Linked DNA regions of Homo sapiens: region 2 is linked to region 1. The links come from fine-mapping of genetic effects on gene expression. A gene starts in region 1. The other region holds a variant in brackets. All regions are shown on one strand. Distances are between the middles of the regions. Region 1 holds the start of KXD1 (KxDL motif containing 1). Region 2 overlaps UBA52 (ubiquitin A-52 residue ribosomal protein fusion product 1).

Region 1 (16,164 bases):
CCAGCTACTCGGGAGGCTGAGGCAGGAGAATCCCTTGAACTCAGGGGGCAGAGATTACGGTGAGCTAAGATAACGCCATCATACTCCAGCCTGGGCAACAAGAGCGAAACTCTGTCTCAAAAAAAAAAAAAGAAAAAAAAAAAGGCATCCTAGGTAGGGCGCGGTGGCTCATGCTTGTAATCCCAGCACTTTGGGAGGTCGAGGTAGGCGGATCACCTGAGGTCGGGAGTTTGAGACCAGCCTGACCAAATGGAGAAACCCCATCTCTACTAAAAATACAAAATTAGCCGGATGTGGTGGCGCATGCCTGTAATCCCAGCTACTCGAGAGGCTGAGGGAGGAGAATCGCTTGAACCTGGGAGGCAGAGGTTCCAATGAGCCGTGATCCTGCCATTGCACTCCAGCATGGGCAACAAGAGTGAAACTCCACCTCAAAAAAAAAAAAAAAAAAAGCATCCTTGGCCGGGCGCGGTGGCTCACTCCTGTAATCCTAGCACTTTGGGAGGCCGAGGCAGGCAGATCATGATGTCAGGACTTTGAGACTAGCCTGGGCAACATAGTGAAACCCCGTCTCTACTAAAAATACAAAAAATTAGCCGGGCATGGTGGTGGGCGCCTATAATCCCAGCTACTCAGGAGGCTGAGGCAGGAGAATTGCTTGAACCTGGGAGGCAGGGTTGCAGTGAGCCGAGATGGCGCCATTGCACTCCAGCCCAGGCAACAACAGCGAGACTCTGTCTCAAAAAAAGAAAAGGCATCCTCATCTCCGTATGAATTCATGGTTTGTATTTATTTTTTATTTTTTGAGACAGGGTCTTGCTCTGTTGCCTGACTGGAGTGCAGAGGTGCAATCACGGCTCACTGCAGCCTCCACCTTTGGGACTCGGGTGATCTCACCTCGGCCTCCTGAGTAGCTGGGACTACAGGCATGCGCCACCACGCCCAGCTAATGTTTTTGTTTTTGTTTTTGTTGTTGTTTTGAGACAGAGTCTCACTTTGTCACCCAGGCTGGAGTGCAATGGCGCGATCTCAGCTCACTGCAAACTCCGCCTCCTGGGTTCAAGTGATTCTCCTGCCCAGCCTTGTGTGTAGCTGGGATTGCAGGCACGTACCACCATGCCTGGCTAATTTTTGTATTTTTAGTAGAGACGAGGTTTCACCATGTTGGCCAGGCTGGTCTCAAACCCCTGACCTCATGATCCACCTGCCTCGGCCTCCCAAAGTCCTGGGATTACAGGCTTGAGCCACTGCACCTGGCCACTGAGCCACCGCGCCTGGCCACTTGTTTTGTTTTTTGAGACAGAGTCTCACTCTATCACCCAGCTGGAGTGCAACGGCACGATCTCGGCTCACCGCAACCTCAGCCACCTGGGTTCAAGCGATTCTCTTGCCTCAGCCTTCCAAGTAGTTGGGATAACAGGCATGCGCCACCTCGCCCAGCTAATTTTTGTGTTTTTAGTAGAGACAGGGTTTCGTCATGTTGGCCAGGCTGGTCTCAAACTCCTGACCCCAGGTGATCTGCCCCCCTCAGCCTCCCAAAATGCTAGGATTACAGGAGTGCACCTGGCCATGTTTGTATTTTTTGTAGAGACAGACTTTTGCCATGTTGCCCAGGCTGGTCTCAAACTCCTGAGTTCAACTGATCTGCCCGCCTCGGCCTCCCAAAGTGCTAGGATTACAGGCATGAACCACTGCACCCAGCTTCATGATTTGTATTTATTTGGAGAATGGGTCTCTGTCACCCAGGCTGGAGTGCAGTGGCTTGATCACAGCTCACTGCAGCCTCAAACTCCTGGGTTTAAGTGATCCTCCCACCTCATCCTTCTGAGTAGCTGAGATTACAGGTTTGTGCCACCACGCCTGGCTTATTGTTTAGCTGTGCCTGCTGACGGGTACCTCTAGAAGCAGTGACACCCCAGCAGCAATGAGCACACACAGCACCCAGATCTTAGTTTAATTTTTTTTTTTTGAAGACAGAGTCTCACTCTGTCCCGCAGGCCGGAGTGCAGTGGCGCAATCTCAGCTCATTGCAACCTCTGCCTCCCTGGTTCAAGCCATTCTCCTGCCTCAGCCTCCCTAGTAACTGGGATTACAGGCACACGCTGCCACACCCGGCTAACTTTTTGTGTTTTAGTAGAGACAGGGTTTCACTGTGTTGCCCAGGCTGGTCACGAACTCCTGAGCTCAGGCAATCTGCCTGCCTTGGCTTCCCAAAGTGTTAGGATTACAGGCATGAGCCACCGTGCCCGGCCTTTTTTTTTTTTTTTTTTTTTTGAGATGGAGTCTTGCTCTGTTGCCCAGGCTGGAGTGCAGTGGCGTGTTCTTGGCTCACTGCAACCTCTGTCTCCTGGGTTCAAGCAATTCTCCTGCCTCAGGCTCCCGAGTAGCTAGGACTACAGGTGTGCACCACAATGCCCAGCTAATTGTGTGTGTGTGGTGTGTGTGTGTGTGTGTGTGTGTGTTTTAGTAGGGACGGGGTTTCACCATGCTGGCCAGGCTGGTCTCAAACTCCTTACCTCAGGTAATCTGCCCGCCTCGGCCTCCCAGAATGCCGGGATTACAGGCATGAGCCACAGCACCCGGCTAATTTCTTTCTTTCTTTCCCTTCTTTCCCTCCCTCCCTCCCTTCCTTTCTTTCCTTCTTTCTTTTTTTTTTTTTTTTTTGAGATGGAGTTTCGCTCTTGTTGCCCAGGCTGGAGTGCAGTGGTGTGATCTCGGATCACTGCAACCTCTGTCTCCCAGGTTCAAACGATTCTCCTGCCTCAGCCTCCCAAGTAGCTAGGATTACAGGGATGTGCCACCATGCCTGGCTAATTTTGTATTTTTAGTAAAGACAGGGTTACTCCATGTTGGTCAGGCTGGTCTCGAACTCCCGACCTCAGGTGATCTGCCCACCTCAGCCTCCCAAAGTGCTGGGATTACAGGAGTGAGCCACTACACCCGGCCTCTTTCTTTTTTGTTTTGAGACAGAGTTTCGCTCTTGTTGCCCAGGCTGGAGTGCAGTGGGTGATCTCAGCTCACTGCAACCTCTGCCTCCCAGTTCCAAGTGATTCTCCAGTGTCTCGAGTAACTGGGATTACAGGTGCCCACCACCATGCCTGGCTAATTTTTTTGTGTTTTTAATAGAGATGGGGGGGTTTCATCATGTTGGCCCAGGTGGTCTCGAACTCCTGACTTCCTGATCTGCCCACCTCAGCTTCCCACAGTGCTGGGATTACAGGCGTGAATCACTGAGCCCCGACTGATCTTGGTTTCTAAATCCTACTCTTGAAGCAAAGGAACCAGGTTCCTTGGAGAAATGGCTGATTCCAGGGATTTTACACAGCATTGGATCATGTTGTGGAGCCCAAGATAAATAATGCTCAGAGAATGGTGGCGACATATTAAAAGGACACAGGAGCTTATTTATTATTTATTTATTTATTTATTGAGACGGAGTCTTGCTCTGTCGCCCAGGCTGGAGTGCAGTGGCTCGATCTCTGCTCACTGCAAGCTTCGCCTCCCGGGTTTGCACCATTCTCCTGCCTCAGCCTCCCGAGTAGCTAGGACCACAGGCACCTGCCACCACGCCTGGCTAATTTTTTGTATTTTTAGTAGAGATAGGGTTTCACCATGTTAGCCAGGATGGTCTCAATCTCCTGACCTCATGATCCGCCCGCCTCGGCCTCCCAAAGTGCTGGGATTACAGGCGTGAGCCACTGCACCCAGCCAGGAGCTAATTTAAAGGGGCAGGAAAGGAAATAATTATAATTATAATGATGTGGATTTATTAATCCACATCAGTTTATAGCGATTTTTGTTGTTGTTGTTGTTGTTGCTTTTTGAGACAAAGTCTCATTCTGTCACCCAGGCTGGAGTGCAGTGGCACAATCTCGGCTCACTGCAATCTCCGCCTCCCAGGTTCAAGAGATTCTCATGCCTCATCCTCCTGAGTAGCTATGATTATAGCACCTGCCACCACGCCAGGCTAATTTTTTTTTTTTTTTTTTGGATTTTTAGTAGAGACGGGGTTTCACCATGTTGGCCAGTCTGGTCTCAAACTCCCGACCTCAGGTGATCCACACGCCTGGCATCCCAAAGTGCTGGGGTTACAGGCGTGAGCCACTGCGCCGGGCCTGTTTGTTTTTTGAGACTGGGTCTCACTCTGTTGCCCAGGCTGGAGTGGGGTCTTCGTTCACTGCAACTTCTGCCTCCTGGCCTCAAACGATACTCCTACCTCAGCCTCTTGAGAAACTGGGACCACAGGCTCGGGCCACAGGCCCGTTTTTTTTTTTTTTTCCAATTGTAGCTGTGAGGCATTTTATTACAAAAACTTGGTACTCGTATACACAAACTAACATGAACTTAAAATACATTTTCTTCATTTTTTAGCTTGACCTTCTTTTTTTTTTTTGAGACGTGGTCTTGCTCTATCGCCCAAGCTGGAGTGCAGTGGTGCGATCTTGGCTTACTGCAGCCTCTGCCTCCTGGGTTCAAGCGATTCTCCTGCCTCAGCCTCCTGAGTAGCTGGGATTACAGGCTCCCGCCACCACTCCCGACTAATTTTTTTTATTTTTAGTAGAGACAAGGTTTCACCATGTTGGTCAGGCTGGTCTCGAACTCCTGATCTCGTGATCCGCCCGCCTCGGCCTCCCAAAGTGCTCGGATTACAATGACAGGATGTGAGCCACCGCGCCCAGCCTGTAAACCCTTTTGAAAAAATTCCCCAGCGCATTACTCCAAAACAACGTGGAAGTGTAAATGGAAACCAGGGCTGGGCGCGGTGGCTCATGCCTGTAATCCCAGCACTTTGGGAGGCCGAGGCGGGCAGATCACCTGAGGTCGGGAGATCGGGACCCGCCTGACCAACATGGAGAAACCCTGTCTCTACTAAAAACACAAAACTTGCCGGGCATGGTGGCACATGCCTGTAATTCCAGCTACTCCGGAAGGCTGAGGCAGATGAATCGCTTGAACCTGGGAAGCGGAGGTTGCGGTGAGCCGAGATCACGCCATTGTACTCCAGCCTGGGCAACAAGAGCGAAACTCTGTCTCAAAAAAAAAAAAAAAAAAAAAAAAAGGAAACTTGGACCAAAAAAATCAGCAAAAGTGGAGCAGGGATGTCTGAACACAGATGAGTCTAATTCCCTGCTTGGAAAGCAGGACACCTGAGTGTGGTTTGGCCTCTGACCACTGTAGCATTTACGACCTTGGGGAGGGTTACCACTCTGGGACCTCAGTCACACTATCTACAAAATGGGACACTTCTCTCAGCCTTCCTTCTTCCGGGCCGCTTTCAAGCCTGGGCTTCTGGAAATACGCAGGCGCGAGATGAATTGTTTGATTGGCTATTCATTGTGATGCACCCACGAGCTGAAGCTCCGTCTAAGCCCCGCCCTTTCCTGTCGTGACTTAACGCACGCAAGCGGCTCCAGGGTACGTCCCCGCCACGCGCGCTCGCAGGATCGGTGCGTGGTGACGTTTCGCCGGCGCGGGCGCCATCCCGGAAGCGCGAGCAAGGCCGCCAGATGTGCAGGTGCCGCCGCTACCGACGCCGGGGCCGAGTTTGGGGTGGGGCTGGGGACTCCAGGGCCGCGGGGAACCGGTCCGGGTCGGGCGCGGCCCCCGGGCTGCGGTGGGGTGGGGTGCGCCACTGGCCACATCTGGTCATTCCTGCTGCGCACAGGCCTCAGTTTCCCCGTCTGCTCAATGGATACGCAGGCGGCGCTACGGGCTGGATCTGGATCCGGATCAGGGGCATAGGAATTGGGGCCTCCTGTGTTCTGGGTGTGTCGTGTAACCTGGAGCTGGGCGTTGCCCGGTTTGTGCCTCAGTTTCCCTGTATTGTAGGGGACGGGGCGTGAGGGGATATTTGAGCCCCTCCCCACTTGGGGTTTTTCAGAGCTTGGATGGCTGAGTTAAATTCTGTTAAATAACCTGGATATAGAACCGTGGTGCTTCTCTGCCTCTCCCTGTGAGTTTCGGCAACGGAGCCCGCCCCTGTGAGCCTCAGTTTCACTCGGAGATGATTGTGTCTGCCTCGTAACGGTGATTGAGGATGAAATGAAGTGCTCTACAAGTGTTTGCCCGTAATATATTCTTAGAGGCCCCTGGGATGCTCTCAAAATGTTGATTCCCGGGACTTCTTCACACTCCTCTTGGAGAAACAGCCTGTCCTGAGCTCCAGTCGTTATCACCTTTGGTTTCAGTTGCCACAGACAGCACTGTGAGATCTTCATTCTACCTTATTTTCATTTTATGGTTGAAAAAACTGATTCAGAAGGGTGAAGTGGCTCTCCCATGGTCAAACAGCCTACCTCTCTGCGTTTCTTCAATAAATCTACATTTGGAGTTGGGATCAGAGCTCTTGCTGGGTCAATTTCACTGTGTATGTGGGCCAGACTAGCAGTAATCAGGGAAGGCTTCTTGGGAGAGGAAGTTGCGGGGGGACGGGAGGGAGGTGCCAGGAACCCCTCAGCCCTCACATCTGGGAGCCAGAGACAGAAAAGAGTCCTGTTTTGAAGGAGGAGTGTATCCCAGAAGGTCCCAGTACTGTGTCTCACTGGTACTAGCTATGGGCCTCCCTCTCCAGGTGTCTTTTTTTTTTTTTTTTTTTTTTTTTCAGTTGAGATGAAGTCTCCCTCTGTAGCCCACACTAGAATGCAGTGGCTTGATTTTGGCTCATTGCAACCTCTGCCTCCCGGGTTCAAGCGATTCTCCTGCCTCAGCCTCCTGAGTAGCTGGGACTACAGGTGCCCGCCATCATGCCTGGCTAATTTTTGTATTTTTAGTAGAGACGGGGGTTTCACCATGTTCACCAGGCTAGTCTTGAACTCATGACCTCAGGTGATCCACCAGCCTTGGCTTCCCAAAGTGCTGAGATTACAGGCATGAGCACCCGGTCCAGGTATCCTCTTTATACAAGATCATGCTTCTTTGGGAATGTGGAGACTGGGTGTCTCTGCATGGCATGTCATAGGAGTTCAATAACCATAGTTATTATTAGAGGGAAGGGGGTTTTGCTGGGTGTGGCACCTTATTTCTAGAAGGTGCTGCAAACCACTGACCAGATACAGATCACAAATAGATGCTCTTGGCCTCCATGATATCTTGGAAAAAAGTATTGATTGCTGACATTTGTCAATGAGGCAATTTCCCAGAAAAAAAAAATCCCTGTTTCCTTTTTCCTGGAGAAACATCAGAAGTCAGGCAGAAATCAGCTGCTGTAAGAAGCCACTGTCCTGTCACAGCTGGATATTGTGCACCTGTTCAGATTCACACCTTTGTGAGACCCGTGGGCTGTGGCCGTTTGTTGTGACTTAGGTTCACTGGCTGTGTGACAGTGGCCCAGTTTCTCAGTGTCCCTGAGCCTCAGTTTTCTCATCTATAAATAAGAATGATAACAGTATGTATGAGCTTGATGCTTTGTTTAGCATAGAGTAGCTGCTGAATAAATGGGAGAGTACATTAAGTGAGCTCTGAAACCCTTTCTTTCTCTTTCCTTTCTTTCTCTCTTTCTCTGTCTCTCTCTCTTTCTCTCCTCTCTCTTTCTCTCTTTGTCTCTCTCTCTTTCTCTCCTTCTCTCTCTCTTTCTCTCTCTCCCTTCCTTCCTTCCCTCCCTCCCTCCCTTCCTTCCTTCTTTTCGAGATGGAGTCTCACTCTGTCGCCCGGGCTGGAGTGTAGTGGCATGATCTCGGCTCATTGCAACCTCTGCCTCCCAGGTTCAAGCCATTCTCCTGCCTCAGCCATCCAAGTAGCTGCGACTACAGGTGCCCGCCACCATGCCCGGCTAATTTTTTTTGTATTTTTAGTAGAGACTGAGTTTCACTATGTTGGCCAGGCTGGTTTTGAACTCCTGACCTCAAGCAGTCTGCCCACCTCGGCCTCCCAAAGTGCTAGGATTACAGACGTGAGCCACCACACCCGGCCTCTGAAACCCTTTCTGATCCAGTAGAAGTTCGTCTCTGTTTCTTGGCTATTAAATGTGTGGGCCTCAGAGCCAAACTATATCAAGATCCTAGATTTTTCCTGAACTCCCTAGGAGGGTCAGTGCTGTAGCCCCTCCTACCCTGGCTGCTCCGGGAAGTCCCTGCCTGCCATTACGGTCATCTGTGTGCCAGCAAAACTGGGAACCTCAGAACCATCTGGATTGCTGGGGCCCACAGGTTGGCTGTGAGTACCTGCAATTCTTGGCTTTAATTTGCTAATAAAAGTGTCACGTCAGAGCTGAGTTTGAAAAGTTCTGTTGCCCTTCCCCACAACAACATTCTGGCAGCCCCTTGCTATGAGCCAGACTCCGGGTCGGGTTCTGGTGACAGACACACCTCTACTCCTTCTTTTTTTTTTTTGAGACGGAGTCTCTCTGTTGCCCAGGCTGGAGTGCAGTGGCACAGTCTTGGCTCACCACAACCTCCGCCTCCTGGGTTCAAGTGATTCTCCTGCCTCAAGCTCCCGAGTAGCTGGGACTAAAGGTGCCCACCACCATGCCTGGCTAATTTTTGTATTTTTAGTAGAGATGGGGTTTCACTATGTTGGCCAGGCTGGTCTCGAACTCCTGACCTCGTGATCCACCTGCCTCGCCCTCCCAGAGTGCTAGGATTACAGGCGTGAGCCACAGCACCTGGCCACCTCTGCTCTTTTGGAGCTGACGTTGTGGCGGTGACAGGCAAACGGGTTAGCTGATAACTAGGATAATTTCATGAAGAGGTGAACCAGTGAAGCAGTTAAATCAAGGTAAAGGGTGGCTGGGCGCAGTGGCTCAGGCCTGTAATCCTAGCACTTTGGGAGGCCAAGGCAAAAGGGTCGTGTCAGCCTAGGAATTTAAGAGCAGCCTAGGCAACATAGCGAGACCCTGTCTCTTAACAAACAAACAAACAAAAACAAGGTAAAGTAGCCTGGGCGCGGTGGCTCATGCCTGTAATCCCAGCACTTTGGGAGGCTGAGGCGAGTGGATCACCTGAGGTCAGTAGTTCGAGACCAGCCTGGCCAAAATGGTGAAACCCCGTCTCTACTAAAAAATACAAAAATTAGCCAGGCGTGGTGGCGGGCACCTGTAATCCCAGCTACTTGGGAGGGTGAGGCAGGAGAATCGCTTGAACCTGGGAGGCGGAGGTTGCGCTAAGCCAAGATCGCGCCATTGCACTCCAGCCTGGGTGACAGGAGTGAAACTCTGTATCAAAAAGAAATAAAAAAACGAGGTCAAGTAGTAAGAGAAGCGGTAAGAGTGACGGGAACAGGAGTCATTGACCTCTTGGGAGAGGAGACATTGGAGGTGGTGATGATTTGCTGAAGCAGCCACACACGTTCAGCTTGTGAGGACAGCAGTTGTTAGGCAGGGGATGAGGGAGGAAGCTGGCAGATCTGTGCAGGTGAGAGGTACCTGTGGCCTTGGGCTCATGGAAGTGGGAGGTGATGGGATTCTAATGTGCTTGGGTACAGTTTACAAATACAACCTCTCTTAGTTTGCCCAATACCTCCAAATTCCTGGGGTGGCACACCTGAGGTTCAGGTGGCATGACTGAGCCACAGTCACACATCCCCACTGTAGGATACCACCACGGTTGGGTTAGGTTCCAGCACATGGCGGTCCCGGCCTGGCCTCTTGGTCCCACCTCACCTGGTGACTAGTGCAGACCACTCTGTTCTTGCCTGTTTCAGGCAGCGGAGGAGGAGAAAGAGATGGACCTCCCGGACTCGGCCTCGAGGGTCTTCTGCGGCCGCATCCTGAGCATGGTGAACACAGATGATGTCAACGCCATCATCCTGGCCCAGAAGAACATGTGAGTGGCGGCTGGGGGACCTGAGCGTGGGAAGGAATCCACAGGCTGGCCAACATTCTTGTCTTGCCCGCCCCTACCCGGGGCCCACACTGGTGATAAAATGAAGGAAATGAGCAAATCTGTCGCTGGCTCCAAAGTAAATTCCTTCCCGGCCTGGAGGCGAGGCCTTGGCACAGGAAGCAGGGCTTTGGGGAGATTTTGCAGCTGCGGATGGCTTGGCGGGGGCCGCAGGGGCTCCTGTCCCGAGACCTGGGGTGGGAGAGTTGAAGGACCAGAGGGGGCCACATGCAGGTTTTTTTGTTTATTTGTTTCTTGTTTTTGAGACAGAGTTTTGCTCTTGTTGCCCAGGCTAGAGTGCAATGGTGTGACCTTGCCTCACTGCAACCTCCGCCTCCCGAGTTCAAGCGATTTCTCCTGCCTCAGCCCTCTGAGTAGCTGGGATTACAAGCATGTGCCACCATGCCCAGCTAATTTTTGTATTTTTAGTAGAGACGGGCTTTCATCATGTTGGTCAGGCTGGTCTCGAACTCCTGACCTCAAGTGATCCACCCGCCTCGGCCTCCCGAAGTCCTGGGATTATAGGCCTGAGCCACTGTGCCTGGCCTTTATGCAGGTTTTATGCTGGTGCGCCTACTTCCTGGTGAAGGACTAGTCTCCCAGAGCCCAGGCTGTGTCTGCACAGTGCCCAGGGTCTCTTGGAGCGGACATAAAGGCCTCTTGTCCTCACTGGGGTTTGGTGCTGTGGCTGCTGAAACCTTGCCCTAATTCAGGCCTGCCCTGTGGGGAAGAAAGGCTAATACCAAGCTTGTCCAACCCTCGGCCTGTCCAACCCTTTGAATGTGGGCCAACACAAATTCGTAAACTTTCTTAAAACATTACGAGATTTTTTTTGTGATTTTTTTCTTTTTCTTTCTTAACTCATCAGCTGTCGTTAGTGTTAGTGTATTTTATGTGTGGCCCAAGACAATTCTTCTTCCAATGTGGCCCAGGGAAATGAAAAGACTGGACACCACTGGGCTAATACAGTCTTGGAGTGGAAGCACAGCCTCCCGCAGCTTTGTTTTTGTGTCTCTGAGCCAGAGGCTCTTCTCAGCTGTCACGACACAGTACAGACCTGATTTCCTTACCTTTTCTCCCAGACCCAGAGCAGCTCCGAGTCTCAATAGTACCTGTCTCTCTCCTGTGTCTTTTTTTTTTTTTTTTTTGGGAGACAGAGTCTCACTCTGTCGCCCAGGCTGGAATGCAATAGCATAATTGCTGCTCACTACATCCTCTGCCTCCTGGGTCAAGTGATTCTCCTGCTTCAGCCTCCTGAGTCGCTGGGATTATAGGCATGCACCACCATGCCTGGCTGATTTTTTTTTTGTGACGGAGTCTCGCTCTCTCGCCAGGCTGGAGCACAGTGGCGCAATCTCAGCTCACTGCAACCTCTGCCTGCTGGGTTCAAGCGATTCTACTGCCTCAGCCTTCCAAGTAGCTGGGACTACAGGTGTGCGCCACCACGGCCAGCTAATTTTTGTATTTTTAGTAGAGACGGGGTTTCACCACGTTGACCAGAATGGTCTCAATCTCTTGACTTCGTGATCCGCCCGCCTCAGCCTCCCAAAGTGCTGGGATTACAGGTGTGAGCCACCGTGCCCGGCCCTGATTTTTTTATTTTTAGAAGAGATGTGGTTTCACCATGTTGGCCAGACCTCAAGTGATCCACCCTGCCTCAACCTCCTAAAGTGCTGGTCTCCTTTTTTTTGAGACATAGTTTCGCACTGTCACCCAGGCTGGAGTGCAGTGGCGCAATCTCAGGTCACTGCTATGTCCGCCTCCCGGGTTCAAATGATTCTCCTGCCTCAGCCTCCCGAGTAGCTGGGATTACAGGCGCCCGCCACCATGCCCAGCCAATTTTTGTATTTTTGGTAGAGACGCGGTTTTCCCATGTTGGCAAGGCTGGTCTCGAACTCCTGACCTCATGATCTGCCTGCCTTGACCTCCCAAAGCGCTGGAATTGCAGGCATGAGCCCCCATGCCCGGCTGGTCTCCTGTTTTTTTAGGTCAGATTCAGACCTGGCTCTGGGAAACTTCTAGACTGAGGGGAGACAAAGCCAGACACAGACCCTCCTGGCCCTATGGTGTCAGGGCTGGGCCAGAGGAACAACCTGGGGCTAGTGGAATTAAAAGAGTCTGATTGGGCCAGGCACGATGGCTCACTCCTGTAATCCCAGCACTTTGGGAGGCCGAGGTGGGTGGATCACGAGGTCAGGAGATCGAGACCATCCTGGCTAACCTGGTGAAACCTCGTCTCTACTAAAAATACAAAAAATTAGCCAGGCATGGTGGCGGACGCCTGTAGTCCCAGCTATACTCGGGAGGCTGAGGCAGGAGAATGGTATGAACCTGGGAGACGGAGCTTGCAGTGAGCCGAGATCGCGCCACTGCACTCCAGCCTGGGTGACGAAGCAAGACTCTGTCTCAAAAAAAGTCTGACTGAATAGAGGTAGACAAGGCTACATGAGAAGGACACACTTGAGTAGGGTTTTGAAGGTTGAATAGGAGTTTGCTAGGTGGCTCAAAGAGTAGGTAGAACTCTGCAGGACAAGGGAACAGCCCATGCAAAGGTTGTGAAGCAGGCAAGGGCTTGGCATGAACAGTCTTCTGGGCCAGGTTGGGCAGGGCCCTGAAGCTGGGCAGTGAAGCTCATGCCCTCTCTCCACCATCAGGCTGGACCGCTTTGAGAAGACCAATGAGATGCTGCTCAACTTCAACAACCTGTCCAGTGCCCGCCTGCAGCAGATGAGCGAACGCTTCCTGCACCACACGAGGACCCTAGTAGAGATGAAACGGGACCTGGACAGCATCTTCCGCCGTATCAGGTGGGTGCTCAGTGCCACCCCAGCCCAGCTGACCTCTGCCTCCACCTCCCCATCTGAGCCTCAGTTTCCTTCACATACCAGGGTAAAGGGAGATTTCTGTTTGTTTTACAAGGCTTCACTGCGCACTTAAGTGTCTGGGACAATTCCAACCCTGGGATAAAATCTTGACGTAAGTTTATTTACTGATTGATTAATTGATCGAGACAGAGTTTTTTTTTTTTTTTTGGAGACGGAGTCTCGCTCTGTTGCCCAGGCTGGAGTGCAGTGGCGCGACCTCAGCTCACTGCAAGCTCCGCTTCCCGGGCTCACGCCATTCTCCTGCCTCAGTCTCCGGAGTAGCTGGGATTACAGGTGCCTACCACCACGCCTGGAGAATTTTTTGTATTTTTAGTGGAGATGGGGTTTCACCGTGTTAGTAGTCAGGATGGTCTCGATCTCCTGACCTCGTGATCCAGCCGCCTTGGCCTCCCAAAGTGCTGGGATTACAGGCGTGAGCCACTGCGCCCGGCCGAGACAGAGTCTTGATCTGTGGCCCTGGCTGGAGTGCAGTGGCGTGATCTTGGCTCACTGCAACCTCTGCCTCCTGGATTCAAGCGATTCTTGTGCTTCAGCCTTCTGAGTAGCTGGGTCTACAGACATACTGTACCACACCCAGCTAATTTTTGTTGTTGTTGTTTTATTTTTGAGGTGGAGTCTTGCTCTGTCGCCCAGGCTGGAGTGCAGTGGTGCAATGTCAGCTCACTGCAACCTCCGCCTCCCAGGTTCAAGCGATTCTCCTGCTTCAGCCTCCTGAGTAGCTGGGACTACAGGCGCATGCTGCCACGCCCAGCTGATTTTTTGTATTTTAGTAGAGACGAGATTTCACCGTGTTGCCCAGGCTAGTCTCAAACTCCTGAGCTCCAGCACTCTGCCTGCCTCGGCCTCCTAAAGTGTTGGGATTACAGGTGTGAGCCTAATTTTTGTATTTTGTGTAATTTTTGTATTTTTTTAGTAGAGACAGGGTTTCCCCATGTTGGCCAGGCTCATCTCGAAGTCCTGGCCTCAGATGATCCATCCACCTCGACCTCCCAAAGTGCTGGGATTATAGGCATGAGCCATCATGCCCAGCCTTGCAGTTTATTTATTCTTAAAAAATGTAACACAGTGCGGCTGGGCGAGGTGGCCCATGCCTGTAATCCCAGCACTTTGGGAGGCCGAGGCAGGCGGATCACGAGGTCAGGAGATCAAGACCATCCCGGCTAACATGGTGAAACCCCGTCTCTACTAAAAATACAAAAAATACTAAAAATACAAAAAATTAGCTGGGCGTGGTGGTGGGCGTCTGTATTGCCAGCTACTCGGGAGGCTGAGGCAGGAGAATGGCATGAACCCAGGAGGTGAGCCGAGATCGCGCCACTGCACTCAAGCCTGGGCGACAGAGCGAGACTCCGTCTCAAAAAAAAAAAAAAAGTAACATAGTGCTAGACACATAATGAAAAGGCAGGAATGGCTGGGCACAGTGGCTCATGCCTGTAATCCCAGCAGTTAGGGAGGCTGACGCAGGCAGATCACCTGAGGTCAGAAGTTTGAGACCAGCCTGGCCAACATGATGAAATCCCGTCTCTACTAAAAATACAAAAAAATCAGCTGAGCATGGTGGCACGTGCCTGTAATCCCAGCTACTTGGGAGGCTGAGGGAGGACAATCATGTGAATCCGGAAGGTGGAGGTTGCAGTGAGCCAGGATGGCACCACTGCACTCCACCCTGGGCGACAGAGTGAGATTCTGTCTCAAAAAAAAAAAAAAAATTTATCAGAGAAGAGGCCACATGTAAGAAGCAGCCTCGCAGGGGGAGCCCCCAGCCAGTGCCTAGGCTCAGAGCACCCAGAGTCTAACTAGTTGGGGGTTGGTGCCTACCTTGGGGCTGGAGGCCGGCTGGTGGGCGACTGTCAGGGCCGTGGCTGCTGGGCCGAGCACCTAGAGAGAGTGAAGATGTGAGGTGATGAACAGTGTGGGGGTTCTCACTCCCGTCTCCCCTTGCCCTCAGCTGGCAGCAGGGGCTTGTGGCCAGCACCAGGCCCAGCCTACCTGCTCAGCAGGTTAAGCCCTGTGTGCCTTCTCTCCCCTGCAGGACGCTGAAAGGGAAACTGGCCAGGCAGCACCCAGAGGCCTTCAGCCGTAAGTGTCACGCAGGGTTCCTGCTCCCGAGCACGTCAGCACTCTCCACCCAGGGCAGGCTTCTGGAAGGCCACCTTGGGGCCTGATACTGAGACCAGGCTGTAATGGGCAGTGGGTCTGGGGAAACCTGGGGTGGGGGCAGGGTCAGGGTGCTGGCCTGGTCCTGTCAGCAGCTGGCAGAGTGGGCACTAGGACGGGAGTCCGTGCCCCGTGGGGAGGCCGCACAGGAGAATGTGGATAAGCAGCATGACAATCCTTATCCCTGTGTGCATTATGAGCCATCTCAGAACAGAGCACGGGCTCATGTGACACCAGCCCCGACATCGTCTCGCCTTCCCTGAGCCCCAGCTTCGAGGATCTGTCCCATGTCCAGCTGTTACCCACAGTCACCCATGGGGTGGGGACTGTGAGTATCACCGTTTCATGGAGAGGGAAACAGAGGCCCAGAGGGGCAGGACTTGAGTTCGCATCTGTCTGGCTAGAGAGCTCGCGTGTTCTCTGGGGTACCATTCCATGTTGCCACCACCTTAAAGGGCTCTGCAGGCTGAGCCTGGGTTCACACCATCTGTTGAAAAGGCCGACAGCTCTCCATCCCAGGGCCTCCAACAGCAGTTTACAGAGCAGGGAGCTGGGCTGAGGGGAGGTCATATACCTAGCCCAGGTAGTGCAGTGAGCCAGGTTCGCCCTCAGGGCTCCTGTAGGCCTAACCCCAGATCTTGTGTCCCTTCCTCACCTCACCTTGAAGGGAGGGCTCTTCCCTGCCTGGGCCTCAGTTTTCTCCTCTACAAAATAAAAATGGGCCAAGTCTGCCAGGCGCGGTGGCTCATGCCTGTAATCCCAACACTTTGGGAGGCTGAGGCGGGTGGATCACCTGAGGTCGGGAGTTCGATACCAGCCTGACCAACATAGAGAAACCCCGTCTCTAGTAAAAATACAAAATTAGATGGGCGTGATGATGGGCATCTGTAGTCTCAGCTACTCAGGAGGTTAAGGCAGAAGAATCGCTTGAACCCGGGAGACGGAGGTTGCAGTGAGCCGAGATTATACCATTGCACTCTAGCCTGGGCAAAGAGCGAAACTCCGTCTCAAAAAAAAAAAAAAAAAAGGGTCAAGTCATACCCCCATGGGGTGAGGGCAGCCGTTAGGGGTCACATGGACAATAAGTCCTACATCACAGAGCTTGGCAAGGTGACAAAACCAACTCTTGGGCCTCCTTCCCCCAGATATCCCAGAGGCATCCTTCCTGGAGGAAGAGGATGAAGACCCCATCCCACCCAGCACCACGACCACCATTGCCACCTCAGAACAGAGCACGGGCTCATGTGACACCAGCCCCGACACCGTCTCGCCCTCCCTGAGCCCCGGCTTCGAGGACCTGTCCCATG
Region 2 (16,164 bases), 22 kb after region 1:
AGTCTCAGACTCCCCCCAGGGCTCGTGGTCAGTGCTGAGATGGAGATTTCCTGGGGCAGGCTGGCTGGGACAGTGTATCTTCCACACGTAGAACACTCGGGGGATCCCGACTTGGTGTCCCCATCACACTTGAGAAAGCAGCAGACTATAGGCCCTGGAGGGTCCTGCCCCTGTGACTGAGGAGCCAGGGCTGGGCTCAGTCGCCGTCCTTCTGGCTGTCTCCTGCAGAGTCCACCCTGCACCTGGTGTTGCGCCTGCGAGGTGGCATTATTGAGCCTTCTCTCCGCCAGCTTGCCCAGAAATACAACTGCGACAAGATGATCTGCCGCAAGTATGTGTGCTCCGATGCTTGGGGGGCTGTGGGGGCTGCCGGAGTCGGGGTATGCCCTCACCCACCCCTCCTGTCTCTGTGCAGGTGCTATGCTCGCCTTCACCCTCGTGCTGTCAACTGCCGCAAGAAGAAGTGTGGTCACACCAACAACCTGCGTCCCAAGAAGAAGGTCAAATAAGGTGGTTCTTTCCTTGAAGGGCAGCCTCCTGCCCAGGCCCCGTGGCCCTGGAGCCTCAATAAAGTGTCCCTTTCATTGACTGGAGCAGCAATTGGTGTCCTCATGGCTGATCTGTCCAGGGAGGTGGCTGAAGAGTGGGCATCTCCCTTAGGGACTCTACTCAGCACTCCATTCTGTGCCACCTGTGGGGTCTTCTGTCCTAGATTCTGTCACATCGGCATTGGTCCCTGCCCTATGCCCCTGACTCTGGATTTGTCATCTGTAAAACTGGAGTAAAAACCTCAGTCGTGTAATTGGTGGGACTGAGGATCAGTTTTGTCATTGCTGGGATCCTGTCAGGCACTTTGAGGTGTCCCTCAGGCCTTGGCCCTGAAGTGTCTAGGTGTGTGGAGATGGGTAGAAAATTAGGTACACCCAATGGTGTAGAACGTTGATTCTCAAATTTTTTTATTTTATACAAATGGGGTCTCACTATGTTGTCCAGGCTGGTCTTGAACTCCTGGGCTCAAGCCATCCGCCCATCTCAGCCCCTCAAAGTGTTGGGATTACAAGCAAGAACTGCCATGCCTGACCCAGTTCTCAGTTTTTTGTTTGTTTGTTTGTTTGTTTGTTTTGAGACGGAGTCTTGCTCTGTCGCCCAGGCTGGAGTGCAGTGGCGCAGTCTCGGCTTACTACAACCTCTGCCTCCGGGGTTCACATCCTTCTCCTGCCTCAGCCTCCCGAGTAGCTGGGACTACAGGTGCCCGCCACAACTCCTGGCTAATTTTTTGTATTTTTAGTAGAGACGGGGTTTCACTGGGTTAGCCAGGTTGGTCTCGATCTCCTGACCTTGTGATCCATTCGCCTTGGCCTCCCAGAATGCTGGTATTACAGGCGTGAGCCAGCACGCCTGGCCCAGTTACTCAGTTTTGAATCTGAGGCCGTGACATCACTCATGGTCTGCAGTCAGTGCTCTGCCCCTGAGCTGTACCCTCTCCTATGATAATCACTCTTAAGAAGGGCAACCCTTGGTGTTTTCCCCTTAAGGTCACCCAGGCTGGAATGCAGTGGTGTGGTCATGGCTCCCTGTACCCTGGAACTCAGGCTTGGGTGATCCTCTCTCCTTTGCCTCCGAAGTAGCCAGGACTACAGGTGTGCACCCACCACCACACTCAGATAATTGCTTTGGTGTTTTTAAAGCTTGTAATGATCAGTAGGCTGAGGTGGGCAAATCATAAGGTCAAGAGTTTTTTAGATGGGGTGAGCACAGACCAATTCCTGTTTTATTTACTGATTTAAAATTTTGAGACAGTCTCACTGTCACCCAGGTTGGGGTGCAGTGGTAGGATCATAGCTTGCTGCAGCCTTGATCTCCCAGGATCTTGCCTCAGCCTCCCGAGTAGCTGGGACTGCATGCTTGTGCCACCACACTCGGTTAATATTTTGTAGAGATGGGGTCTTGCTATGTTGCCCAGGCTGGCTTCAAACTCCTGAACTTAAAAGCCTCCTGTTTAGTTTTGGTTTTTTATCACTTTTTTTTTTTTTTTTTGAGATGGAGCCTTGCTCCCATCGTGCAGGCTGGAGTGCGGTGGCGCAGTCTCGGCTCACTGCAGCTTCTGCCTCTCGGGTTCAAGCGATTCTCCTTTCTCAGCCTCTTGAGTAGCTGGAATTACCAGTGTGCGCCACCACCACCACGCCTGGCTAGTTTTTCTGTTTTTAGTAGAGACAGGGTTTTGCTATGTTGGCCAGGCTGGTCTTGAACTACTGACCTCTTGTGATCTACCTGTCTTGGCCTTCCAAAGTGCTAGGATTACAAGCGTAAGCCACAGCGCCTGGCCTTGCTACATTTTTTTTTTTTTTTTTTTTTTTACAGACATGGTCTCGCTATGTTGCCCAGAATGGTTTTGCACTGGGTCCAAGCAGTTCTGCCGCAGCCTCCCAAAGTGCTGGGATTACAGGGGTGAGGCACCTTGCTGGCCCCTGTTTTGATTAGGGTGCAGTGCTGGTGAAGCCGGTGCACGAGGCCAGTGATGCATCCTAATGAGGGGTGGAGTTGGCGGGACTTCCTGGGCCAGTTTGGGGACTTTCACAAAAGACCCCCATGACTCAGGGTTTTGAGTTCTTAACTGATCGAATGAAGGATTCAAAATTAACCACTCCAAGGGGGGATTGAAGGAAGAACCACTCTTAATGGACAAAAAGAAAGAAAGGGGAGGGAGTAACAGGGATATGAGCTCTAGCCGCCCAAGCTAGCAATGGCAACCCTTCTGGGTCCCCTTCCAGCATGTGGAAGCTTTCCTTTCGCTTCATTCAATAAACAGCTGCTGCTCACTCTCCTGGTCCGTGGACTCTTTTTGAACTGTTAACACTCCCCGCAAAGGTCCGCAGCTTCATTCTTCAAAGTTAGCGAGACCAGGAACCCATCGGCAGGAGAAACTGACTCATCGTGGGGGCTCACCCAGGATTTCCAAAGCGGTAACATCGGACCTCTTTCGCTTGCTACTCTGCTCTACTTTTCTTTAGAATTGAGGGCAAACACCGGGCACCTGTCGGCCATTTAAAAGCGACAAGTGCCGCCGCCTGACTAAAGACACAGATGTAAGGGTATCTGAGAAAGGGCTCTCTAACAACCCCCAGCCCTTCTGAATCGAGAGTGTTGTTTTGCCTAGAAACCAGTTCCCACTTTCTCTGCATTTTCTGGGTTGAACCGAGGGCTGGCCAAGGGTGGAAAACAGTGGCCCCAAGCTCCTGGTAACGCCCAGTCGAGATGACAGCGCTTTGTGAAACCTTTGTTAAACAGCCACCCAAACGCACTTCACCCACCCTTCGAGAGGCATGCCTCCTAGGTCCAAACGTCTATAAGGAAGACTTTCTTGAGAACTTGTCTCCAGGATTCTCTCTACCCCCAGGATGAAAACCCTCTGGATTAGGAATCTAAAACAATTAGGATGGCAACCCTCAGATCTGTGTTCCTGATGTGCCATGGCTTATTTTTTTATTTTTTTTGAGATGGAGTCTCGCTCTGACGCCCAGGCTGGAGTGCAGCGGCACGATCTTGGCCCACTGCAACCTCAACCTCCCGGATTCAAGCAATTCTCTTGCCTCAGCCTCCTGAGTAGCTGGGATTACAGGCACCACGTGCCACCATGACTGGCTAATTTTTGTATTTTTAGTAGAGATGGGGTTTCACATGTTGGTCAGACTGGTCTCGATCTGACCTCGTGATCTGCCCGCCTCGACCTCCCAAAGTGCTGGGATTGCAGGCGTGAGCCACTGCGCCCGGCCCCCATGGCTTATTCTAATGTAGATGGGCAACAATGCAAATATACAGGACCTGTTCCCCATATTCGACACCGAAGGCAATACCCAGGACAATATAGTGTGTGCCAATGGTTACTGGAAGGCTTAGGCCATTTCTCTTTCTGTCGTCCCCACCTCACTGGGAACCATTTCACCTATCATTTCTCTTGTTTAGGATCAGCAATCCAAACTACGGAGCTCTTCCACTCAGGGTACCACTCGCATTTGTGGGAGTTAAGTAAAATAATAGACCATCGACTGGGAGATCAAAAGTAGTATTCTTAAGATGGAAAGCGGGGACAAAAGGCTGTAGTGCATGAGACACTATTTCAGCCTTGGCCCAATCCCCTGTTGCCCCCCGCCTTAAAATTGCTATGTCTATGTACAATCTTTAAGGAGTTCATCTTACTGGGGCAGTTTCAAGCTCAGAAATATGCTAACTGGAGCCTTGTAAACCACCTAAGAATACACCCCAAACTTAGAACCCACTCACTGGAACAAAAACTTTCGGGCGCACTGGTAAGAGGCCGCTAAACCCAGCAGCCTGGCCTCCTTCTTTGTGGCTAAGAAGGGAGGGAAAAGAATGTGGTTGAAACTGCTACGTCGGTAAGCACAATTAAATCTGATAAGCAGGGTTCCATGGGTGATTGTGCACCCTGGAAAATGGACACTAAAACAGTAGGGGACCTGCTAGAACCAGTGTCCACTGGGAATGACTAGGGGTGCGGGCATCCCTATGCTTTCCTTTCAGATGGGAGATTTTCCCTCCAAAGTGAAGTCGCCCCTGAGGTGTATTCTGAATAACTGGGACCAATTTGATCCCCAGACATTGAAGAAGCAGCTCATATTTTTCTGCAGCACTGCCTGGCCACAATATCCTCTTCCAGGAGGAGAACGATGGCCACCTGAGGGAAGTATACACTATAATACCATCCTGCAACTAGATCTGTTTTGTAAACAAGAAGGCAAGTGGATTTAGGTACCATATGTTCAGACCTTTTTCTCATTAAGGGATGATAACCCACGATTGTGTAAGACATGTAACCTGCACCCCACAGGGAGTCCTCAAATTCTACCCCCATACCCAGTCCTCCCCACGGCTCCTCCTACTAATGCCAAACCCTCTCTGGCTTCTACAGCCCAAAAGGGAACAAATAAAAGAGCCTTCAGAGAGCCAAGAGACCCCACTGGCCCCTGGCTATGTCCTCTTCAGGCTGTAGGAGGGGAATTTGGCCCAACCCGAGTACATGTTCCCTTTTCTCTCTCTGATCTAAAGCAAATTAAGGCAGACTTGGATGAAAGTTCTCAGATGACCCCAATAGATACGTAGATGGCCTGCTGGGTCTGGGACAATCTTTTGACCTTTCCTGGAGAGAGATCATGTTATTGCTTGATCAGACCTAACCTCTAATGAGAAGAATGCTGCTTTAACAGGAGCCCGAGAGTTTGGGGATACCTGGTACCTCAGTTAAGTAAGTGATAGAATGACATCAGAAGAGAGCAGTTTCCTACTGGCCAGCAAGCAGTCCCCAGTATGGATCCCCACTGGGACCCTGACTCGGATCATGGGGACTGGAGTCACAAACATTTACTGACCTGTATCCTAGAAGGGTTAAGGAGAACTAGGAAAAAGCCCATGAACTATTCAATGATGTCTACTATAACCCAAGGGAAGGAAGAAAACCCTATTGCCTTCCTCAAAAGGCTGAGGGAGGCTTTGAGAAAATATACTCCCCTGTCACCAGATTCCCTCGAAGGCCAGTTAATTTTAAAGGACAAATTTATTACTCAGTCAGCTGCAGACATTAGGAAAAAGCTCCAAAAGTTAGCCTTGGGCCGAGCAAAATTTGGAGGCATCATTAAACCTGGCAACCTCAGTGTTCTATCATAGGGACCAAGAGGAACAGGCCGAAAAGGAAAAGCAGGATAAGAGAAAGGCTGCAGATTTAGTCATGCCCTCAGACAAACCTTGGCGGTTCAAAGAGGAGAAAAAATGGAGCAGGCCAATCACCCAGCAGGGCTTATTATCAGTGCAGTTTACAAGGACACTTTAAACAAGATTGTCCAAAGAGAAATAAGCCGCCCTCTCACCCATGTCCACTATGCCAAGGTGATCACTGGAAGGCACACTGTCCCAGAGGACAAAGGTTCTCTGGGCCAGAAGTCCCCAACCAGATGATCCAGCAACAGGATGGAGGGTGCCCGGGGCAAGCACCAGCTCGTGTTGTCACCCTCACAGAGCCCCGGGTAAGTTTGACCATTGAGGGCCAGGAAATCGACTTTCTTCTGGACACTGGCACAGCCTTCTCAGTTCCACTGTCCTGCCCTGGATGGCTGTCCTCAAGGTCTGTTACCATCCAAGGGATCCTGGGACAACCTGTAACCAGGTATTTCTCCCGCCCCCTTAGCTGTAACTGGGAAACCTTAATTTTCTCACATGCCTTTCTCATCATGCCTGAGAATCCCATACCCTTACTGGGGAGGGACATATTAGCTAAATCAGGAGCTATCATCTGTATGAATACAGGGAAGAAAAGACCTATCTGTTGTCCCCTACTTGAGGAAGGAATCAACCCTGAGGTTTGGGCATTAGAAGGACAATTTGGAGGGGCAAAGAACGCCTGTC[C/A]AGTCCAAATCAAACTAAAAGACCCCACCCCTTTCCCTTACCAAAGACAATACCCCCTAAGACCTGAAGCTCGAAAAGGATTACAAGGTATTGTTAAAAATTTAAAAGCCCAAGGTCTAGTAAGAAGTTGTAACAGCACCTGTAACACCCCAATTCTAGGGGTACAAAAACCAAATGGTCAATGGAGGTTGGTGCAGGACCTCAGGCTCATAAATGAGGCCATAATTCCTTTATACCCAGCTGTACCCAACCCTTATAGATTGCTCTCTCAAATACCAGAAGAAGCAGAGTGGTTTACAGTCCTGAATCTTAAAGATGCCTTTTTCTGTATCCCTCTACACCCTGACTTTCAATTCCTATTTGCCTTTGAGGATCCCTCAGATCAAACATCTCAGCTCACCTGGACAGTCTTGCCCCAAGGATTTAGAGATAGCCCTCACCTGTTTGGCCAAGCATTGGCCCAAGATTTAAGTCACTTCTTGCACCCAGGTACCCTAATTCTTCAATATATGGATGACTTACTTCTCCCGTTGAGAGACCCTGTGCCATCAGGCTACCCAAGACTTTTTTTTTTTTTTTTTTTGAGACGGAGTCTTGCACTGTTGCCCAGGCTGGAGTGCAGTGGCGCAATCTCGGTTCACTGCAAGCTTCGCCTCCTGGGTTCATGCCATTCTCCTGCCTCAGCCTCCCGAGTAGCTGGGAGTACAGGCGCCTGCCACCACGCCTGGCTAATTTTTTGTACTTTTAGTAGAGACAGGGTTTCACCTTGTTAGCCAGGATGGTCTCGATCTCCTGACCTCATGATCCACCCACCTCAGCCTCCCAAAGTGCTGGGATTACATTTGAGCCCAAGGCCTTTTAAACTTTCTAGCTGATCGAGGTTACAAAGTATCTAAATCAAAGGCCCAGCTTTGTTTACAGCAGGTCAAATACCTAGGGCTGGTTTTGGCTAAAGGAACCAGGGCTCTCAACAAAAAACCTATCCAGTCTATACTGGCTTATCCTCACCCTCAGACATTAAAACAGTTGACAGGGTTTCTTGGAATAACTGGCTTTTGCCAACTGTGGATCCCCAGATACAGCGAAATGGCCAGGCCACTTTACACTCTAATTAAGGAGACCCAAAAAGCTAATACCCATTTGATAGAATGGGGACCAGAGGCAGAGGCAGCCTTCAGAACCCTAAAACAGGCCCTAACACAAGTCCCAGTTCTGGGTCTACCTACGGGACAAAATTTCTCTTTGTATGTCACAGAAAGAATGGGAATAGTTCTTGGAGTCCTTACCCAGACTTGAGGGACTACCATACAGCCAGTAGCATATCTGAGTAAAGAAATTGATGTGGTAGCAAAGGACTGGCCTCACTGTCTGCAGGTGGTAGCTGCAGTGGCCATTTTAGTATTAGAGGCTGTCAAAATAATACAAGGGAGAGACATCACTGTATGGACTATTCACGATGTCAACGGCATACTAACTGCTAAAGGAGGTTTGTGGCTGTCAGACAATCGCCTACTTAGGTACCAGGCCTTATTACTTGAGGGACTGGTGCTTCAGATGCGCACTTGTGCAGCTCTTAACCCAAACTTATGCTGCCCAGAAGGATCTTTTAGAGGTCCCCTTAGCCAACCCTGACCTCAACCTATATATATACTGATGGAAGTTCGTTTGTAGAAAAGGGATTACAAAGGGCAGGATATACCATAGGTTAGTGATAAAGCAGTAGTTGAAAGTGGGCCCCTCCCCCAGGGACCAGCACCCAGTTAGCAGAACTAGTGGCGCTTACCCGAACTTTAGAGCTGGGAAAGGGAAAAAGTATAAATGTATATACAGAGAGCAAATTTGCTTATCTAGTTCTACATGCCCATGCTGCCATATGGAAAGAAAGGGAGTTCCTAACCTCCGGAGGAACACCCATTAAATACCATGAAGAAATTATGAAATTATTACAGGCAGTGCAGAAACCCAAGGAAGTGGTAGTGGCCTTGCACTGCAAAGGCCATCAGAAAGGCAAAGGAAAGGAGGCAAAAGGAAATCGCTGCACAGACGCTGAGGCCAAAGTTGCCGCAAGACGGGACCTCCCATTAGAAACACCTATGGAGGGACCCTTGGTATGGGATAACCCCCTTCAGGAGACCAGGCCCCAGTATTCCCCTGCAGAAATGGAATGGGGACTTTCATGGGGACATAGTTTTCTCCCCTCGGGGTGGCTAGCTACTCAGGAGGGAAAGGTGCCCATACCCGCAGCTAATCAATGGAAAATACTTAAAACCGTTCACCAAACATTCCATAGGGGTATTGAGAATACCCATCAAATGGTCAAATCTCTGTTCACTGGACGAGACCTCCTTAAAACCATCCGGCAGACAGTCAAGGCCTGCGAAGTGTGCCAAAGGAATAACCCCTTGGTCCATTGCCAAGCCCCTCATGGAGAACAAAGGACAGGGCACTACCCTGGAGAGGACTGGCAGTTAGATTTCACTTATATGCCTAAGTCACGGGGACTTCAATACTTACTAGCCTGTGTTGATACCTTCACGAATTGGGTTGAAGCCTTCCCCTGTAAGACAGAAAAGGCCCAGGAGGTAATCAAAGCCCTGGTCCATGAAATAATTCCTAGGTTTGGACTTCCCTGTAGTTTACAAAGTGATAATGGCCCGGCTTTCAGAGCCACAGTGACTCAGGGAATTTCCAAGGCGCTAGGGATACAATATCACCTTCATTGGCCGGGCGCGGTGGCTCACGTCTGTAATCCCAGCACTTTGGGAGGCCGAGGCAGGTGGATCACGAGGTCAGGAGATCGAGACCATCCTGGCTAACACAGTGAAACCCCGTCTCTACTAAAAATACAAAAAATTTAGCCGGGCGTAGTGGTGGGCGCCTGTAGTCCCAGCTACTCGAGAGGCTGAGGCAGGAGAATGGCGTGAACCCGGGAGATGGAGCATGCAGTGAGCCGAGATTGCACCACTGCACTCCAGCCTGTGCGACAGAGCGAGACTCCCTCAAAAAAAAAAAAAAAAAATCACCTTCATTGCGCCCAGGGACCACAATCCTCAGGGAAAGTCGAGAAGATTAATGAAACACTCAAAAGGCACTCAAGGAAATTAACACAAGAAACTCACCTCCCATGGAAACTCACCCTCTTGCCCATAGCATTATTAAGGATCCTAAATTCTCCCCACAAGATAGGACTCAGTCCTTATGAAATGCTATATGGACAGCCTTTTCTCACAAACAACCTCTTACTTGATTGAGAAACTGCCAACTTGGTCAAGGACATAACTTCTTTGGCTAGGTACCAGCAAATCCTAAAGACATTACCCGAGGGATGCCACCGAGAAAAGGGAAAAGCATCGTTCCATCCCAGGGATCTAGTATTAGTCAAGTCCCTCCCCTCTACCTCCCCATCCCTAGATCCATCGTGGGAAGGACCATATTTGGTTATCCTCTCCACTCCAACTGCAGTCAAGGTGATTGGAGTGGAGTCTTGGATCCATCACACCTGAATCAAACCTTGGATACAGCCTGAAAAACCCGCAGAATCATTAGCTTGGGAATCTAAGAGTCAGCCAGACAAACCTTCTTACACCCACGAGCCATTGGAAGACTTATGTATCCTCTTTCAGAAGGAAAATTAATCAGTGCTCATAAGTTCTACCTCAGTTCTTGTTTTAAAAACAGAATGTACTCTAACATCCTAACATTCCTTGCCTTTGCCCAAGTCTTAACCTTTCCCCGCTCAATGTCTTCCCCTAATCTTGAGGGAATTATTATTATTATTATTATTTTTTTTTTTTTTTTTTGAGACAGAGTCTCGCTCTGTCGCCCAGGCTGGAGTGCAGTGACGTGATCTCGGCTCACTGCAAGCTCTGCCTTCCGGGTTCACACCATTCTCCTCCCTCAGCCTCCCAAGTAGCTGGGACTACAGGCGCCCACCACCACACCTGGCTAATTTTTTGTATTTTTAGTAGAGACGGGGTTTCACCGTGGTCTCGATCTGCTGACCTCGTGATCTGCCCTCCTCAGCCTCCCAAAGTGCTGGGATTACAGGCGTGAGCCACCGTGCCCGGCCTACCTTGAGGGAATTATAAACATGTCCTCCAGGTTTTTATTTGAAGCACTTCCCAATCAGAGTAACTCATCCTGTTGGGTTTGCATGAACCCTAATTTCCCCCTTATATACAGCAGTTCCGGCCCCCCTCAACATATGGGTGGAAAGCTCTGAGGCCTCATACATAGCTAACACTTCTAAGGGTCCAGGATTTTTTCATCCTAGTGATAGGTCCAATTTCCCTGACAGGGCTCAAGCAGCCTTAAAAGCAGCCGCCGCCATTCTCCGACAATTCGCTCTATCAGCTATCCCAATCATAGGTTCTGTGGGCACAATAACCTCCTTCTCTTCGCCTCCACTCCTTTGTATCTCCCATCAAGTGTTCCCATGATCACAAGGTGTGGGACACGTGGCTGGCTGCAACTATAGCTTGCCTTGGATATAGAGTTCAAATATTCTAATTCTTACAGTACGACTACTGGCACCCCAATGTTTTGTGGAAATAAACATGAGTTCCTTGGAAACCCTATTTCAGTCACCTATCCCTTAAGATTTACCACCCCAAGCCAAATAATTCCCCCACCAGAGGCCAAAACAACAAGCAATTACTGCTGGGGCAGACTTCCTTTTGCCCAGGATATCCCCCTCCTGGGACTTGGTTCCTCTCTCACAGGCAAAGGGTTAAAAAAACCCCATTGCTTCCTGCTTCCTGTCTGGGGTGCGCGAGTTTTTCTTTTTGTTGTTGTTGTTTTGTTTTGTTTTTGAGATGGAGTCTCGCTCTGTCGCCCAGGCTGGAGTGCAGTGGCGCGATCTCCCTCACTGCAAGCTCCGCCTCCCAGGTTTGCACCATTCTCCTGCCTCAGCCTCCCGAGTAGCTGGGACTACAGGCGCCCACCACCACACCCAGCTAATTTTTTGTATTTTTAGTAGAGATGGAGTTTCACCATGTTAGCCAGGATGGTCTTGATCTCCTGACCTCGTGATCCACCAGCCTTGGCCTCCGAAAGTGCTGGGATTACAGGCGTGAGCCACTGCACCCAGCCGAGAGTTTTTCTTAATGCAGCTAGCCACCGGTTTGCCTTACAGGAACCCCATAATACGTCCTTGGCAAATTCTATTCAGCTCCAACTGCTAGGAGTGGCCCATTTGTCCTGAACCCTCAAATCATGGGAATGAGAAATGAATTTAGACTGACCACAGCCCTTATGAGTTTTCAGCTACAGGGGTGTATAGAACCCTGATAAGGAGTTTTCTTTGTGTGTGGAAGATCCTTCTATATTTGCCTCCCCACCAACTGGACAGGAACTTGTACTTTAGCCTACATAGTACCTCCTGTGACTTATTCCTTTTCAGAAGAGGCAGTAGCTGTGCCCATTCATGCTAAGCTTCAGCCGAGAGCAATCTCACTACTTCCTCTATTGGCTGGTTTAGGATTTACTACCACCTAGGAAGTGGACTCACAGCCTAGATGAAATCTCTCTCCAACTTACTCAAATCCAGGACCAAATAGACTCATTAGCAGCTGTGGTTCTCCAGAACCAGTGAGCACTAGATCTCCAATCTCCTCACTGCCGAAAGGGGAGGAACATGCCTTTTTCTGAACAAGGAATGTTGTTTTTATGTCAATAAATCAGGCATAGTGAGAGATGGAATTAAATGACTTCAGGATAGAGCTAGCAGACTACATGGTGGGACAACCGAAACTACCTCAGGGTTCTCACAGCCTGTTCTCCACTGGCTTCTTCCATTTTTAGGTCCCTTCCTTATGATTATTCTAGGAGTAACCTTTGGCCCATGTCTTTTCAGTTCCTTCATCCTTTCGTTTCTTCCTGAATAGAATCAATGAAACTAGAAATGTTACTGCAGATGGAACCTCAGATGACTTCAACCAGCACCTATTATCAAGGACCCCTAAACCAGCCTGCCGGCCCATACCCGGACGTTGACACCCAAACCACCTCTCACGAGGAAACCTCAGCTACAGAACCCCTTCTATGCCCCTATTCAGCAGGAAGCAATTAGAGTGGTCATCCTCCCACACCCCAACAGCAGTTGGGCTCTCCTGTTGAGAGAGGGGACTGAGGGGTGGAGTTGGCAGGATTTACTGGGCAGGTTTGGGGACTTTCACAGAAGACCCCTGTGACTCAGTGTTTTGAGTTCTTAACCAATCGAGTGAAGGATTCAGAATTAACCACTCCAGGCCGGGCGCGGTGGCTCACGCCTGTAATCCCAGCACTTTGGGAGGCCGAGGCGGGCGGATCACGAGGTCAGGAGATTGAGACCATCCTGGCTAACCCGGTGAAACCCTGCCTCTACTAAAAATACAAAAAATTGGCCGGGTGTGGTGGCGGGCGCCTGTGGTCCCAGCTACTGGGGAGGCTGAGGCAGGAGAATGGCGTGAACCCGGGAGGCAGAGCTTGAAGTGAGCCGAGATCGTGCCATTGCACTGCAGCCTGGGCGACAGAGCGAGACTCTGTCTCACTAAAAAAAAAAAAAAAAAAAAACAAAAAAAAAAAACACTCCAGAGGAGGATTGAAAAAAGAACCACTCTCAATGGACAAAAAGAAAGGGGAGGGGTAACATAGGGATATGAGCCCTAGCCACCGGAGCCAGCAACGGCAACCCTTCCGGGTCCCCTTCCAGCATGTGGAAGCTTTCCTTTCGCTTTGTTCAATAAACTGCCCTGCTGCTCACTCTCCTGGTCCGTGGACTCTTTTTGATCTGTAACACACACCGCGAAGGTCCACAGCTTCATTCTTCAAAGTTAGCGAGACCACGAACCCATCGGCAAGAAAAACTCCCAACTCACTAACAGCCTAGTCCCTTCCCCCTTAAAGGCTGGTGTCTGTCACCCCATACCTGAGCTGGTCCCTCTTCACTAAGTCAGGCTACCAGCATCTTCCTGCTCCTCCGGCTGGGCCCCTGGAGGAGGAAGCTTTCCAAAGCTCTGTCTAGCCCATGTATCCCTCCAGCAGGAAGCTCCAAGGCCTCCTCTGTACTTTGAGGTCGTTCTGGCCCCTGCTATGCTCCAGGCTCAGGGCTATTACACAAGACACCCAATTCAACTCGGTGGGCTGTTGACACCGTCCCTGTCACTGAATCTTGTCTTCACCCCTGTGATTCTCTGAAGAGCCAGTGAATCTCTGTTAATGTTGGTGGAGTTCCAGCCACTGCACTTTTTTTGAGGCAGACTCACTGTGGCTCCGGCTGGAGTGCAGTGGCATGGTCATAGCTCATGGCAGCCCCCAACTCCCGGGCTCATGTAATCCTCCCACCTCAGCCTCCCGAGTAGCTGGGACTGGAGGCGGGAGCCACCATGTCGGGCTAATTGGTTTTTCTGTAGAGATCGGGCCTCCCTAGGTTGCCCAGGCTTACTTAACACTCTTGAACGTCAAAACCCACGCTCAGTACCCGCTTCAAGTGGAAGTCGGTGTTGAGATACAAGCATAGGAACGAACTCAAGGCTAACAGCTGTTCTGTATTCAGAGCCGCACAATCAAGGAAAAACACGATCGGAGGCGGGCCCTGGACGGGAACAAGAAGGGTGGGCTTGACTGGGCGGCCCGCGGTCTTGGTTCCCCTTTCTTCCTTCTGGCTGGCCGGCCGCAGGGTAGGGGGTCCGTGGACCTCCCGGCCTGTAGGGGGCGTCGGGCGCAGCGGAAGGGCCTGCTCCGGAGCCTGGCCAGGGCTGCGCAGTCATGATCACCGAGACCGCGGCGGAGCCTACGGTCCCTGCAGTGCCTGCTGCTGAGGAGGCCACCGAAGCTCGGGGACGCGAGGAGCCGGCGTGGCCCTGGGTGAGCCCAGGCCCAAGCGGGAACGGGCGCGGGGCGGGCGGCGCAGACCCAGGGGCGCGGGCTTCATGCCCCAGCCGTGCCCCCTGTCCCGCAGAAAGACGCCCCGATCCGGACGCTGGTGCAGCGCATCCACCAGCTGCAGGCTGAGCGCGCGCAGGGCTTCCGCCGACTGGAGGAGTGAGTGGGGGCGCGGAGGGGCTCAGGGTTCGGTCCCCCGCCCGCTCCGGGCGTGGGCGTGTTCTCGGCGGGCGTGCCTGGAGGAGGAGCTGGGTCCTTGTGTGGCTGCAGAGTCAGATGGGGCGGGGATTTCGGGGCACCGGGTCCTCACCTTCACGAAAAAGGCCCCACAGCACGTCCCCACTACCCGACGACTCACTCTTCGTGGCTTCTCTCTCCTCCCCAAGAGCAGGGGTGGGCCTGTCTCGCGTTCCCCTGCGGGAGTCAGGAAGCGTCCTTCCTACCTACCAGTCCTCCCCTCTGGTGTCTGGGGACACTTCCTGGGGGCCTTTCAGGTGGTTGGCGCCGGTGCAGGGCCTGAGAGCCTGGGGGCGCGGCCTCAGGGTCCCCACATGCCGCAGAGGCCACCGCCAGTACCTGCGCAGCGGCCCTGACTACGACTTCGCGCGCTACCGGAGCACAGTGCACGGGGTGACCCAGGCCTTCGCCGCCGCCTCGCGGGAGGTGCTGGCGGTGGAAGCAGAGCTGGGCGGGCCTCGCAGGCAGCCGCTGCTCGCCGGCCACGTGCGCAGCCTGCAGGAGCTGGAGCAGACGCGGCTGGGCACGGTGAGGCCACCACCCCTTCCCCGCCGTGTCTCTAGGACCCTGGCCGGCTCCTCTCATGACGCACCCCTGGTTGGGGGGTGGTCCCAGTATCCCATACACAGACCTCACCCCTTCCTGTCCCACCCCAATCCTCTATTAAGGCTTCACTTGGGGATTCTCGGACCTTGCCCTCTGCTGTTCATCCCCAATTTTTTTCCCAAGTTTTGTCCTTATTCCCAGAGCACTCCCGCTTTCTCCCAGCTCCGCCTAAATGCTATTCCAAGATGCCCAGATCCCGCCCCAACAATGCTCCACCCACTCTGGTTGTTCCGCGTCTAGGGTCCCACCCTCAACCTCCCGTAGATACAGGCGAGGGGGGTCCCAGGCCACGCCTCCTCCGTATTATTCCTCCATCACAGCTTTAGTTCTTTGCCTATTTCTCTCTTGCGATCCGCCTGCTCGGCCCTGCAACCGTGTGTGACTGGAATTCCTAGGCCACGCCCCCCATGAGCGACCCGTCTCAGCGTCTCTTTGGCCTTTTTCTTTCTGGTGTTTTTTTTTTTTTTTTTTTTTTTTAAGACAGGCTCTTGCTCTCTTGCTCTCTCACCCAGGCTAGAGTGCAATGGCGCGATCTCGGCTAACGGCAACCTCCGCCTCCCAGATTCAAGCGATTCTCCTGCCTCAGCCTCCTGAGTAGCTGGGATTACAGGCATAATTTTTGTATTTTGTATTTTTTTTAGTAGAGACGGGGTTGTGCCATATGGGCAAGGCTGGTCTCGAACTCCTGGTCTCAAGCGATCCGCCCTCTTCTGCTTCCCGAAGTGCTGGGATTTCAGGCGTGAGCCACCGCGTCCAGGCTTTTTGGCCTACTTTTATCCTGGGTCCCCGTCCCTGGGACCATGAGGCGCAACCTAACCCACCCCTACGGCCAATGCCTGGCTAAGACGTCACTGTTGTTCCCAGGCCACGCCCACATCGCGCTCAGCACTGCCTCTGGCCTGCCTGCTGTCTCCTTTCTGAGAGAGCCTCTAAACTGAATTTCGGACTCTTCCTACACAAAGCACTGCCCCTCGTGGTTCTACCCGGGCACTGCCTTTCTGGGTGCCTCTGTTTTTTCCTGAACATCCTTGGAGGGCAGGGGGT

Evidence for each region.
Region 2: its variant is fine-mapped to the expression of KXD1 in esophagus muscle (GTEx, PIP 0.94).

Annotation. Positions count from the first base shown.
Region 1 is chr19:18,552,400-18,568,563 of GRCh38, forward strand. It overlaps KXD1 (KxDL motif containing 1), which reads left to right and starts at 5,471. Exons shown (of 5, transcript NM_024069.4): 1 at 5,471-5,515; 2 at 9,637-9,758; 3 at 12,470-12,622; 4 at 14,733-14,779; 5 at 16,003-16,164. The coding sequence starts at 9,658. It also overlaps a transcript of UBA52 not described here. RefSeq lists enhancers at 4,498-5,289, 5,290-6,079, 9,704-10,289 and a silencer at 5,570-5,729.
Region 2 is chr19:18,574,642-18,590,805 of GRCh38, forward strand. UBA52 (ubiquitin A-52 residue ribosomal protein fusion product 1) reads left to right here. Exons shown (of 5, transcript NM_001033930.3): 4 at 229-331; 5 at 416-2,909. The coding sequence ends at 509. REX1BD (required for excision 1-B domain containing) reads left to right here and starts at 14,157. Exons shown (of 5, transcript NM_001100418.2): 1 at 14,157-14,259; 2 at 14,354-14,436; 3 at 14,772-15,042. The coding sequence starts at 14,161. RefSeq lists a silencer at 13,985-14,504. The variant C/A (reference allele first, on the strand shown) is at 6,415.